2 separate regions of the Homo sapiens genome follow, and region 2 is linked to region 1. A link means that fine-mapping ties the variant in region 1 to the expression of a gene that starts in the linked region. Tissue or cell type: whole blood. Region 1 holds a variant in brackets; the other region holds the start of a gene. All regions are shown on one strand. Distances are from middle to middle.

Evidence for each region. PIP is the estimated chance that this variant, and not a neighbour inherited with it, causes the effect. A credible set is the group of variants that fine-mapping cannot tell apart.
Region 2: it holds the start of LINC02012, and the variant in region 1 is the best candidate, but not a certain one, in a credible set for the expression of LINC02012 in whole blood (TOPMed, PIP 0.53).

The regions. Positions count from the first base shown.
Region 1 is chr3:197,566,514-197,571,885 of GRCh38, reverse strand. It overlaps a transcript of BDH1 not described here. Among named protein-coding and RNA genes, the nearest start is that of BDH1, 13 kb to the right of the region's middle. The variant C/T (reference allele first, on the strand shown) is at 2,491.
Region 2 is chr3:197,506,789-197,512,160 of GRCh38, reverse strand. It overlaps LINC02012 (long intergenic non-protein coding RNA 2012), which reads left to right and starts at 2,500. Exons shown (of 1, transcript NR_145451.1): 1 at 2,500-5,372. It overlaps BDH1 (3-hydroxybutyrate dehydrogenase 1), which reads left to right. Exons shown (of 8, transcript NM_203314.3): 8 at 1-2,378. The coding sequence ends at 266. RefSeq lists an enhancer at 1-409 and a silencer at 3,669-3,963.

The DNA of each region.
Region 1 (5,372 bases):
CTTGCTGTTTGCCTAGGCTGGTCTTGAACTCCTAGGGTCAAGTGATCCTCCCATCTTGTTCTCCCAAAGTGTTGAGATTACAGGCATGAACTACTATGCTTGGCCATCTTTCAAAGTTTATATGTGTATTCATCCATTTCCTTATTGCTGATAAAGGCATACCCAAGAATGGGTAATTTATAAAGAAAAAGAGGTTTAATGGACTCACAGTTCCACATGGCTGGAGAGGCCTCACAATTATGGCAGAAGGCAAAAGGCACATCTTACATGGTGGCAGGCAAGAGAGAGAACGAAAGCCAAGTGAAAGGGGTTTCCCCTTGTAAAACCATTAGATCTCATGAGACTTATTCACTAGCATGTGAAAACTACGGGGGGAACCACCTCAACAATTCAATTATCTCCCACTGGGTCCCTTCCACAACACATGGGAATTATGGTAGCTATAATTCAAGATGAGATTTGGGTGGGGACAGAGTCAAACCATATCATTCCACTCCTGGCCCCTTCCAAATCTCATGTCTTCACATTTCAAAACCAATCATGCCTTCCCAACAGTTTCCCAAAGTCTTCACTCATTTCAGCATTAACTCAAAAGTCCACAGTCCAAAGTCTTACCCGAGATAAGGCAAGTCTCTTCCACTTATGAGCCTAAAAAACAAAAAGCAAGTTAGTTACTTCCTAGATACAATGGAGGTACAGGCATTGGATAAATATACCCATTCCAAATGGGAGAAATGGGTCAAAACGAAGGGGCCAAAGGTTCCATGAAAGTCCAAAATCCAGCAGGGCAGCCAAATCTTAAAGCTCCTTTGACTCCATGTCTCACATCCAGGTCATGCTGATGCAAGAGGTGGGTTCCCATGGTCTTGGGCAGCTCTGCCCCTGTGGCTTTGCAGGGTACACCCTCCCTCCTGGCTGCTATCATGGGCTGGCATTGAGTGTCTGTGACTTTTCCAGGCACATGGTGCAAGCTGTCAGTGGACCTACCATTCTGGGGGCTGGAGGACGGTGGCCCTCCTCTCACAGCCGCACTAGGCAGTAACCTAGTGGGGACTTTGTGTGGAGGCTTCAACCCCACATTTCCCTTCTTCACTGCCCTAGCAGAGGTTCTCTGTGAGGGTCCCAGCCCTGCAATAAAATTCTGCCTGGACCTCCAGTTATTTCCATACCTCCTCTGAAATCTAGGTGGAGGTTCCCAATCCTCAATTCTTGACTTCTGTGCACCCACAGGCTCAACACCACATGGAAGCTGCCAAGTCTTAGAGTTTGCACCCTCTGAAGCCGCAGCCTGAGGTGTACCTTGGCACCTTTTAGCCATGGCTAGAGCAGCTGGGACGTAGGGTGCCAAGTCCCTAAGATGCACACAGCAGGGGGCCCCTGGGCCCAGGCCACGCAAACATTTTCTCCTTCTAGGCCTATAGGCCTGTGATGGGAGGGGGCTGCCACAAAGGTCTTTGACATACCCTGGAGACATTTTCTCTATCATCTTGGCAATCTGGCTCTTCATTACTTATGCAAATTTCTGCAGCCAGCTTGAATTTCTCCTCAGAAAATGCGTTTTTCTTTTGTATTGCGTCAGGCTGCAAATTTTCCAAACTTTTATGTTCTGTTTCCCTTTTAAAACTGAATGCTTTTAACAGCACCCAAGTCACACTTTGAATGCTTTGCTACTTAGAAATTTCTTCTGCCAGATATCCTAAACCATCTCACTCAAGTTCAAAGTTCCACAAATCTCTAGGGCAGGGGCAAAATGCTGCCAGTCTCTTTGCTAAAACATAACAAGAGTCACCTTTACTCCAGTTCCCAAGTGCCTCATCTCCATCTAAGACCACCTCAGCCTGGATTTCATTGTCCATATCATTGTCAGAATTTTGGCCAAAGCCATTTAACAAGTCTCTAGGAAGTTCCAAACTTTTTCACATTTTTCCTGTCTTCTTCTGAGCCCTCCAAACTGTTCTAACCTCTGCCTGTTACCCAGTTCCAAAGTTGCTTCCACATTTTCAGGTACCCTGACAGCAGTGCCCCACTCTACCAGTACCAATTTACTGTATTAGTCTGTTTTCTTGCTGCTGATAAAGGCATACCCAAGACTGAGTAATTTATAAAGAAAAAGAGGTTTAATGGACTCACAGTTCCACATGGCTGGGGAGGCCTCACAATCATGGCAGAAGGCAAAAGGCACGTCTTACATGGTGGCAGACAAGAGAGAGGATGAAAGCCAAGCAAAAGGGGTTTCCCCTTGTAAAACCATCAGTTTTTATTCACTACCAAGAGAGAAGTATGGGAGAAACTTATTCACTACCACGAGAAAAGTATGGGGGAAACTACCCTCATGATTCAATTTTCCCCCACCAGGTCCCTCCCACAACACATGGGAATTATGGGAGCTACAGTTCAAGATGATATTTGGGTAGGGACACAGCCAAAACATATCAATATAATCAACCAGAACCTATAACTTTTCCTCATTGAAGACATCAGAAATTGCCA[C/T]CTGTATTGTACTAATTGAATGAAATTTCTGTGTAACAAAGCCATTCCAGCTTCTGTTGGATTATCCACATGAATGATGCCCAGCTGATTATAAAAAATTCTGTACTCCATGCTGAGTTCCTGTAACTCTAGAAAAAGGAAAAAAAAAACTGTACTCCAAATAGCTACAGAAACTGGGATTTTAAAAATCCCTTTCTTCAAAGAAAGAACCTCAGAACAATTGGTGGTGTGCTTAACCCAAAGCATTTGGAGTAGGACAGACTTGGGTGGGATCTGTCTTTGCCACTTCCTGGTTGTATTGTTGTGGGAAAGTTATTTGAACCTGCTAACTGTCAATGTGTTCAGTTGCAAATGGGAATAATCTTAGGCTACTTTTAGAATTGTTGCAAAAGTAAGTGAAATAATGCATAGAGGGCACTTGTCACAGTGGCTGGTACATAGAAATGAACCATTTATTGCTAAATTGTAGTATTATTGCAAACAGGGAGCCTGCATTGATTTATGATTCCACTCTAAGAATATAGCACAATCAGTGAGATATTATAAGGACTCAATCAGTGCAAACTGAATGAATGAATAAATTGCATGGGTTGCTGTAGCTTAGGGCAGGATGGGCAGAGGTGTTTTTTTTTTTAATCAAATATCCTCATATTGTTCCCTCTTCCAAGATCCTAGTTACCTCAAAAGAACATTGCTTAAATTTACAGACAACCCATACCCATGCACAAAATGCTTGTGCTTAAACAAACACTCAATTAATGAATACGTAAGAGTTAAGTGATAGAAAGTGGGTGGGGATGCCTGATACTCTCCATCTTTTTCCCTTGAGGTCAAGCACTTGTTTTACTTGCTCATTCACTGCAAGGAAAAGGCAGCTCCTCCAGTTCTCATTCATCCACAGATTTCAGCATTACAGTCACGTTAAGATCAGCTGTCAAAGGCTCTTTTCAACACACTAGATTCTGAGCACCACAGCTTCGTTTTAGAAGCAGCATAGAATAATATACTGGGCTTCTTTCCTTTGCTGTCAATTCCAGAAAAAGCTACTCAATACCTATAAAATTCTACAGATTAAGGGTATGATTTCCAGCCAAAAAAAAAAAACCCACAAAACTTTAATAAAATTCAATTGCATCAAAACAAACAGAAGACTGTGGGGTTTGGGGCAGTAGACAGTGTTTTTATTCCCTATCGCCCAGCAGAACTCAGCAAAGCAGGCTGCACGCTGGCTCTGTGAGGACTTGGAGGTGGCTGCCTAAGGGCAGGATTTAACCTGCACTGTCCTGAATTAACACTGAGCACTTAATACTGAGGGCAGAGAAGACCAGGGGCATTCAGACCCCGGGCAGGGCCAGATCCAGCAAGGGAGGGGCTGGGAATGATTAAATTCAGCTGGTATTGGAGGAGAGTGTGAGCTAGCAGGCAAACAGACAGGAGAGAACACCATGATCTCTCAGGTCAGGGGCCTCTTTTAGGGTACTTCATTCTGACTGAGAATCTTTCAGGATACTACCTCTTCTACAAAGCCTATCCTGAACCCTTATTAGAACTCTGATGACATTTATTTGTCCCTCTTTTAGAAGACTTACAGGACTTCTAATGATTCATTTAGCTTACATACATGCTTCATTTCCCTCCATAAACCCCCAAAATCTCAGGTGCCTCATTTCCCTCCATGAACCCCCAAAATCTCAGACAGGTCTCTCAGTTAATTCAGAAAGTTTATTTTGCGAAGGTTGAGGATGTGCACCTGTAACACTGCCTCAAGCGGTCCTGACGACATGTGCCCAAGGTGGTCAGAGCACAGCTTGGTTTTATACATTTTAGAGAGACATGAGAAGCAATCAACATATGTAAAATGAACATTGGTTTGGCCCAGAAAGGTAGGACAACTGGAGGCAAAAGCAGGACAGGGAGGGGGCTTCCAGGTCACGGGTAGATGAGAGACAAACAATTGCACTCTTTTGAGTTTCTGATTAGCCTTTCCAAAGGAGGCAATTAGATATGCATTTTTCTCAGTGAGCAGAGGGATGACTTTGAACAGAACGGGAGGCAGGTTGGCCCTAAGCAGTTCCCAGCTTGACTCTTCCCTTAGCTTAGTGATTTTGGGACCCCAAGATTTATCTTCCTTTCACGTTTCCCTCCTTTTCTTTTTAAAATCTTTTGGAGAAAGCATTTTAGGAGAAAATGAGTCCCTCGTCCCAGGTTTCATCTGGTGTCTCATGGCTAGGATGGTTTATTCCTAGATAGGTAGGTCCCAAGTTATTAGGAAAGCTCATATTTAGAAGGTTGTGAAGTCTCATGTCCTTTGAAGAGAAAACAGGGGGAAGAAGGTAGAAAAACAACAACAAACAAAAGAACAATCCTGGAAAATCGATATAGGCCACATTACTCTGAAGTTTATACATCAGTAGGTAGGTATGAAAGTGGCTAATGTATGTAAATAAGGTTGCTATTATTTTCTTCTGAAGGTTGTCTAGCTTCAGTTTGTGGGGCTTTATGAAAGCACAGCTCAGTTTTCAGTGACTCCAAATTAGGAAAAATGGGAAAAGAAGAAGAAAAAAATTGAAAACAAAGTAACAAAAATTACTTTGAAGACTTGGAGCCAAGAAAAATTAGAATTCAGTTCAAACTTTAAAAAATAATAAAAATCAAGAAACGTTAGGCAAGACTAGAATCTAACAACTGCTGTACTATAGTTTTGAATCATAATGTTTCTCTCTTCAGTTTCCCGTTTGTACTAAAGAAAAATCATGGTAGGACTGGTTTGCTTTACTATACTTGGCCTAATTATTTGTATACAATGCAGCCAGAGTAATTATTTTTTTACATAGGCTTTTAAATTGGCTTTGATGGAACTTTGTTCCATAGAAGGAATCTCA
Region 2 (5,372 bases), 60 kb after region 1:
TCGCCAAGAAGATGTGGGAGGAGCTGCCTGAGGTCGTGCGCAAGGACTACGGCAAGAAGTACTTTGATGAAAAGATCGCCAAGATGGAGACCTACTGCAGCAGTGGCTCCACAGACACGTCCCCTGTCATCGATGCTGTCACACACGCCCTGACCGCCACCACCCCCTACACCCGCTACCACCCCATGGACTACTACTGGTGGCTGCGAATGCAGATCATGACCCACTTGCCTGGAGCCATCTCCGACATGATCTACATCCGCTGAAGAGTCTCGCTGTGGCCTCTGTCAGGGATCCCTGGTGGAAGGGGAGGGGAGGGAGGAACCCATATAGTCAACTCTTGATTATCCACGTGTGGATTATCCACCATGCCAGGAAGACCCATAACTGGTTTTAACACTAACTAGAGGGAATGACTTCTTTGCATAGTGAGTGACTTGGGCCTTCACAAACAGGGTGTGGAGTGGCAGGCAGAGGCCTCTAAATCTCAGGGCAAACATGGTGAATCTATCTCTCCGGAGATAATTTCATACAGAGATTTTAAGAAAACATCTTTATATTAAAAACAGATCTCATTTGATCCTTAAGCCAGTCTCATGAATGAAAAGGACAGGTTTTTTTCTTTTGTAAATGAAGCATTTGCAGCTTAAAGAGGATGCATGAAATAACCCTTTTATCGCTTATAAATAGTGCCAGTTATGTGTTCCTGCCACGGCTGTGGAAATACTTCACATTTGCATTCCAGGACTGTTTTGGATCCATTTGCCCGAGAATCTTCTGACTAACTCTGTGTCCTCATCTGGGCAGCACACACCAAGTGCCCACTGGTACCTCTGCATGTCCATGGTGCTGTGTGACTGGCCAGCCAGCAGCCAGTGACTCAGAGCTGGCTGTATGGAGGGGGTGGGAATGTTTCTGGAGATTTTTGTTTTTCCAGACACAGTCTTGCTCAGTCCCCTAGGCTGGAGTGCAATGGCACCATCTCCGCTCACTGCAACCTCCGCCTCCCTGGTTCAAGCGGTTCTCCTGCCTCAGCCTTCCAAGTAGCTGGGGTTATAGGCACCCACCACCATGCCGGGCTAATTTTTGTATTTTTAGTAGAGATGGGGTTTCACCATGTTGGCTAGGCTGGTCCCGAACTCCCGACTTCAAGTGATCCGCCTGCCTTGGCCTCCCAAAGTGCTGGGATTACAGGCATGAGATTTTTACTTGAGATTTTTCCATCCTCTTTTAGGACTCAGGATAGACTTGTGTGGAGGTGCTCTCTGGCTAAGGGGATAAGTTGTTACTGGTTTGGGTCTGCTTGGTTTTGCCTTGGGTGGGGCCGGTGTCGATGGGGCAGGCTTGGCACGAGCAGTGGTGCCATGGCAGGGCACTGTGGCATCTCCCCTAGCAGTGGATTTGGGGTCCCTGCTTGCCTCACGTGGTGCTTACACACATGTACACACACACACACACACACACACACACACACACCTTACACACATGTACACACACACACACACACACACACACACACACACACACACACACACACACACACACACACACACACACACACCCCTGTTCTGCAGGGCTTCAGCGTGGCCTTCATTCCCGCCTCGCCTCGGCCTCTTTTCAATTAAGAAGTGATGCCACTTGAGGCAGGGTCTGCATGATCACTTCTTGGGTTTCAGTTTGAAAGCTGCCATCCCTGCGACTGCCCAGGGCCTGTATGTTGGGACCGAAGCCAAACACCACTGTCCTCCAGGGGGCTTTCGGCCCGGGGCAGGGTCCCCAGTGCCCGCCTTCGAATCAGACTCCGCGTTTCCGCCTCTCCCTGGGCGGACCTGCCGCTAGAGGGCGCTCCTCCTCCGCAGCCGGCGCCGGCCTCCAGCGCCCCAGACTCCCGCGCTGCCGCCCGAGCCTGAGGTTTCTCACGGCGTTCGGGATTCGCGCTTCGGAAACCGGGAACAAAGAAGCAAGCAGCACCCTTCAGAAACAGTGTTCTCGCTCTCCTAGCAGCTGGCCCGGGCCCGGAGGCTGGTGCCAGGAGAAGGCAGAAGAGCCCGGGCAGCCGGAGTGGGCTACGGGGTTCAGGCAGTGCCAAGGAAGAAGGGCCTCACAATGGGCAATTCAGCTGCCTCCCGGGCCGTTGTCCCCGCTGTCTTCAAACAGGGGTCCCCTGTCCCAGCTGCCCCAGGAGGAGGGGGGGAGGCAGGCAGGGCCGAAACCCTCCAGAGCCCAGAGGGGGACGCTTGGTGGCCGCTGCAGTTACATAACCATAGGATGCTTTTGTACCGTGGACCTTGTTCTAGCAGGATCCTTTCGGAATTGCACTTTTACATGTTGGGCGAATTTGTGTCCGTGCTGAAGTTTATTAAAGGAAAATAGATGGAGCCTTGGAGTTGCACGTGTGCGTCCCTGCCTGGGAACTAGAGGAAGGAGGGCCACATACTCTGGGTCCCCATCAGCAGACCCGAACGTCAGAGAAGCTGCATGTGCGTCTACTGGGATCTTCTGAGTAAGCTAGAACTGCTGGGCCGGCCTGTGCAGGTTGTTCTGGCTTTTAATCGTTTCCAGTGATTGAAAAGCCCAGGCTACCATCCCTCCAAATAACTCCAGTGCTAACTCAAACCTCATATTCACCATTCACTTTCCGGCAGCTTAGAACCTACCGGGGCGCAGGACGTAGTTTTCGTCTTTACCAGAGTGCGTGGCCGGGCGCGGTGGCTCACACCTGTCATCCCAGCATTTTGGGAGGCCCAGGCGGTCGGATCGCCTGAGGTCAGGAGTTCAAGACCAGCCTGGCCAACGTGGTGAAACCCTGTCTCTACTAAAAGCACAAAAATTAGCCAGGCGTGGTGGTGGGCGCCTGTAACCCCAGCTACTCGGGAGGGTGAGGCAGGGAGAATCGACTGAACCCAGAGGCAGAGGTTGTAGTGAGCCGAGATCATGCCACTGCACTCCAGCCTGGGCAACAGAGTGAGGCTCTGTCTCAAAAAACAAAACAACAACAACAAAACAAAAAAAGAGTGAGAGGACAAAACAGGTGTATATTCCCATTTTATAGATGACATAACTGAGGCCCAAAGAAGGAAAGTGACTCACTCAGTGTCACAGTAAATCCACGGCAGGACCAGGGCCAGAACAAAAGTCTCCTGAGTGGCACTCTTCACTATCACATAACACTGTGGCTCGCAACAGCCCTGGAAGCAAAGCCAGTTGGGGTCACCAGGCACCTAGACCCTCACTGCTTGTCTGCTGGCAGAGAGCCGCTCCTTCTTGTCAGAGTAAGTAGGAAGGAGGCCTTTGCCTGTGCGGACCTATGGTCTGGTGACTCCAGCCAGCACAAACCCATCCCCTGATGGTTGGAGGCTGGGCAAGGGCTTCTTGCAAGATGCGCCTGACAGTGCCTTGTTACAGAGCACCTGCTGTGCTTAGCATTCCACCCGGGGCCAAGAGGCTGTGTGAGCAGGTGACAGCCAGCCTGGCCCCGCCTGTCACAAGCTGCTAGGTCTGCACCCTTGCCACCCATGGCAGGGGGTCTGACAAAGACTCCCCATTTGTGAGGTCTGTTCACTGCCTGTATTTCGAACAGGGCCTGGCTCTGCAAACCTGTGCAAACTGTGTTGATATAGGAGCCGACATGAGCAAGCAGAGGCTCCCCTGGCTCAGGCAGCCCCAGGTTGGGTTGGCCAGACAGCAACCAGGCACAGGGGCCAAGTGCAGGTCCTGCTACCCAGCCACCACAGCTTCCTCTCACCTGATTCTCACAGCAACCCAGGCAGGATAGGCAGGGTGGGGTTATCTTATTTTGCAGAAACAGGCTTTCCCAAGTCTGTCACCAAGTGAGGGGTAGAGCTGGGTGTCCAGCCAGATCTAACCTCCAGCCCAGAGCTGGTGATGCGGAAAATCAGGGCAGATGGCAGCAGGATCTAAAATAGGGAGGGAAGAAGTCCTCAGTTACGTAACAGCGAGGAGACTCTCAGCCTACGCACAGTAGCAACCATGGGGTCCTGCCACTCGAGCCAGACCCTCCTTCCCTTCCCGTTTTGGGCTCTAAGTGCTGCCCCCTGTGAGAGAATGTGCTGGAGGAGCCCCCAGTATCCTTCCAGCGGGAAGTCGGCTCTGTCAAGGCCATTCCCGAGAGCAGGCTCTAGGAATTCAAAGACCAAGCAGGCAGAGCTGGATTCTGGAGCTGCCCTCAAAGGGCTTGAGGGTTATATGAGCGCCGTGCTTGAGAAGTTAGTGATGATTTCTGCTCAAAGAGACAGAGCAAGAGGGCTGAGGGGCTCTGGTGCTCTGGGGGAGATGAAACAACCCCACAGTATATGAGGCCTCTCTGGTGTGTGCGGGCACTAAGGAAGGGTGACTTGCGAGTGGCGCATTCGGAGGCACGGGGTGGGCAGCTGTTGAGCAAGGGACCAGGGCTGGGACAGGCTGCCAGGACCCCCACAACCCCAGGGGAGGAAAGGGGACTCAGCCATCATCATGCCTGACTCCCAGGCTCCCGGATGAGGAGCCTGCTAGCCAGGGCTTGAAGCCCTCCAGTGACAGGGGGTGCATTACTTCCTAAGAAGCCATTTCCTTGGTTCAGAAACGTTTATCCAAAGACTGAGCCGAAATCTACCACCTCACTTAATGTTTTTGGCACCTGGTTATGACCCAGACCTGCACAGAATAATTTAACTCTTCTGAAATAGACTTCCAGATATTTGGAAGTGGCCAAGTCAGGTTTAAGAGCTCAGGTCTCCCATTTGACAAGATTTCCATCTCCTCGCTGTCTGAACAGGTTTCAGCTGTGGTTATCCAATCCCTCATTCTTGATGACACACACCAGGCTGAATGGTCTTTAGAGTTCCCCTCAAGCCGCCAAGCGCTCTGAGACAGGTTTACTAGCTTTGGTGAGATGCTGACACTCCTCACATGCACGTGCCCCTCCCAACTACTCAAGTGAGTTCGTGGCAAATCTCTCATCTGATCTGCATAAACGGATTATATCTTAGGCGGTGCCATTGTCTGCATTTTACAAATAAGGAAACTGAGCCTCAGGGAGGTGAAGTCATTTGCCCAAAATCACAGAGCCAGGAAACGAGAGAGCCAAGATCCAGACCCCGCAAGATCCAGACCCCACAAGATCCAGACCCCGCAAGATCCAGACCCCTCAAGATATAGACCCTGCAAGATCCAGACCTCACAAGATCCAGACCCCACAAGATCCAGACCTCGGCTATCTGGCTTCTCTTTTTTTTGCGACAGAGTCTCAATCTGTCACCCAGGCTGGAGCGCAGTGGTGTGATCTCAGCTCACTGCAACCTCTGCCTCCCAGGTTCAAGCAATTCTCCTGCCTCAGCCTCCCGAGTAGCTGGGATCACAGGTGTGCGCCATGC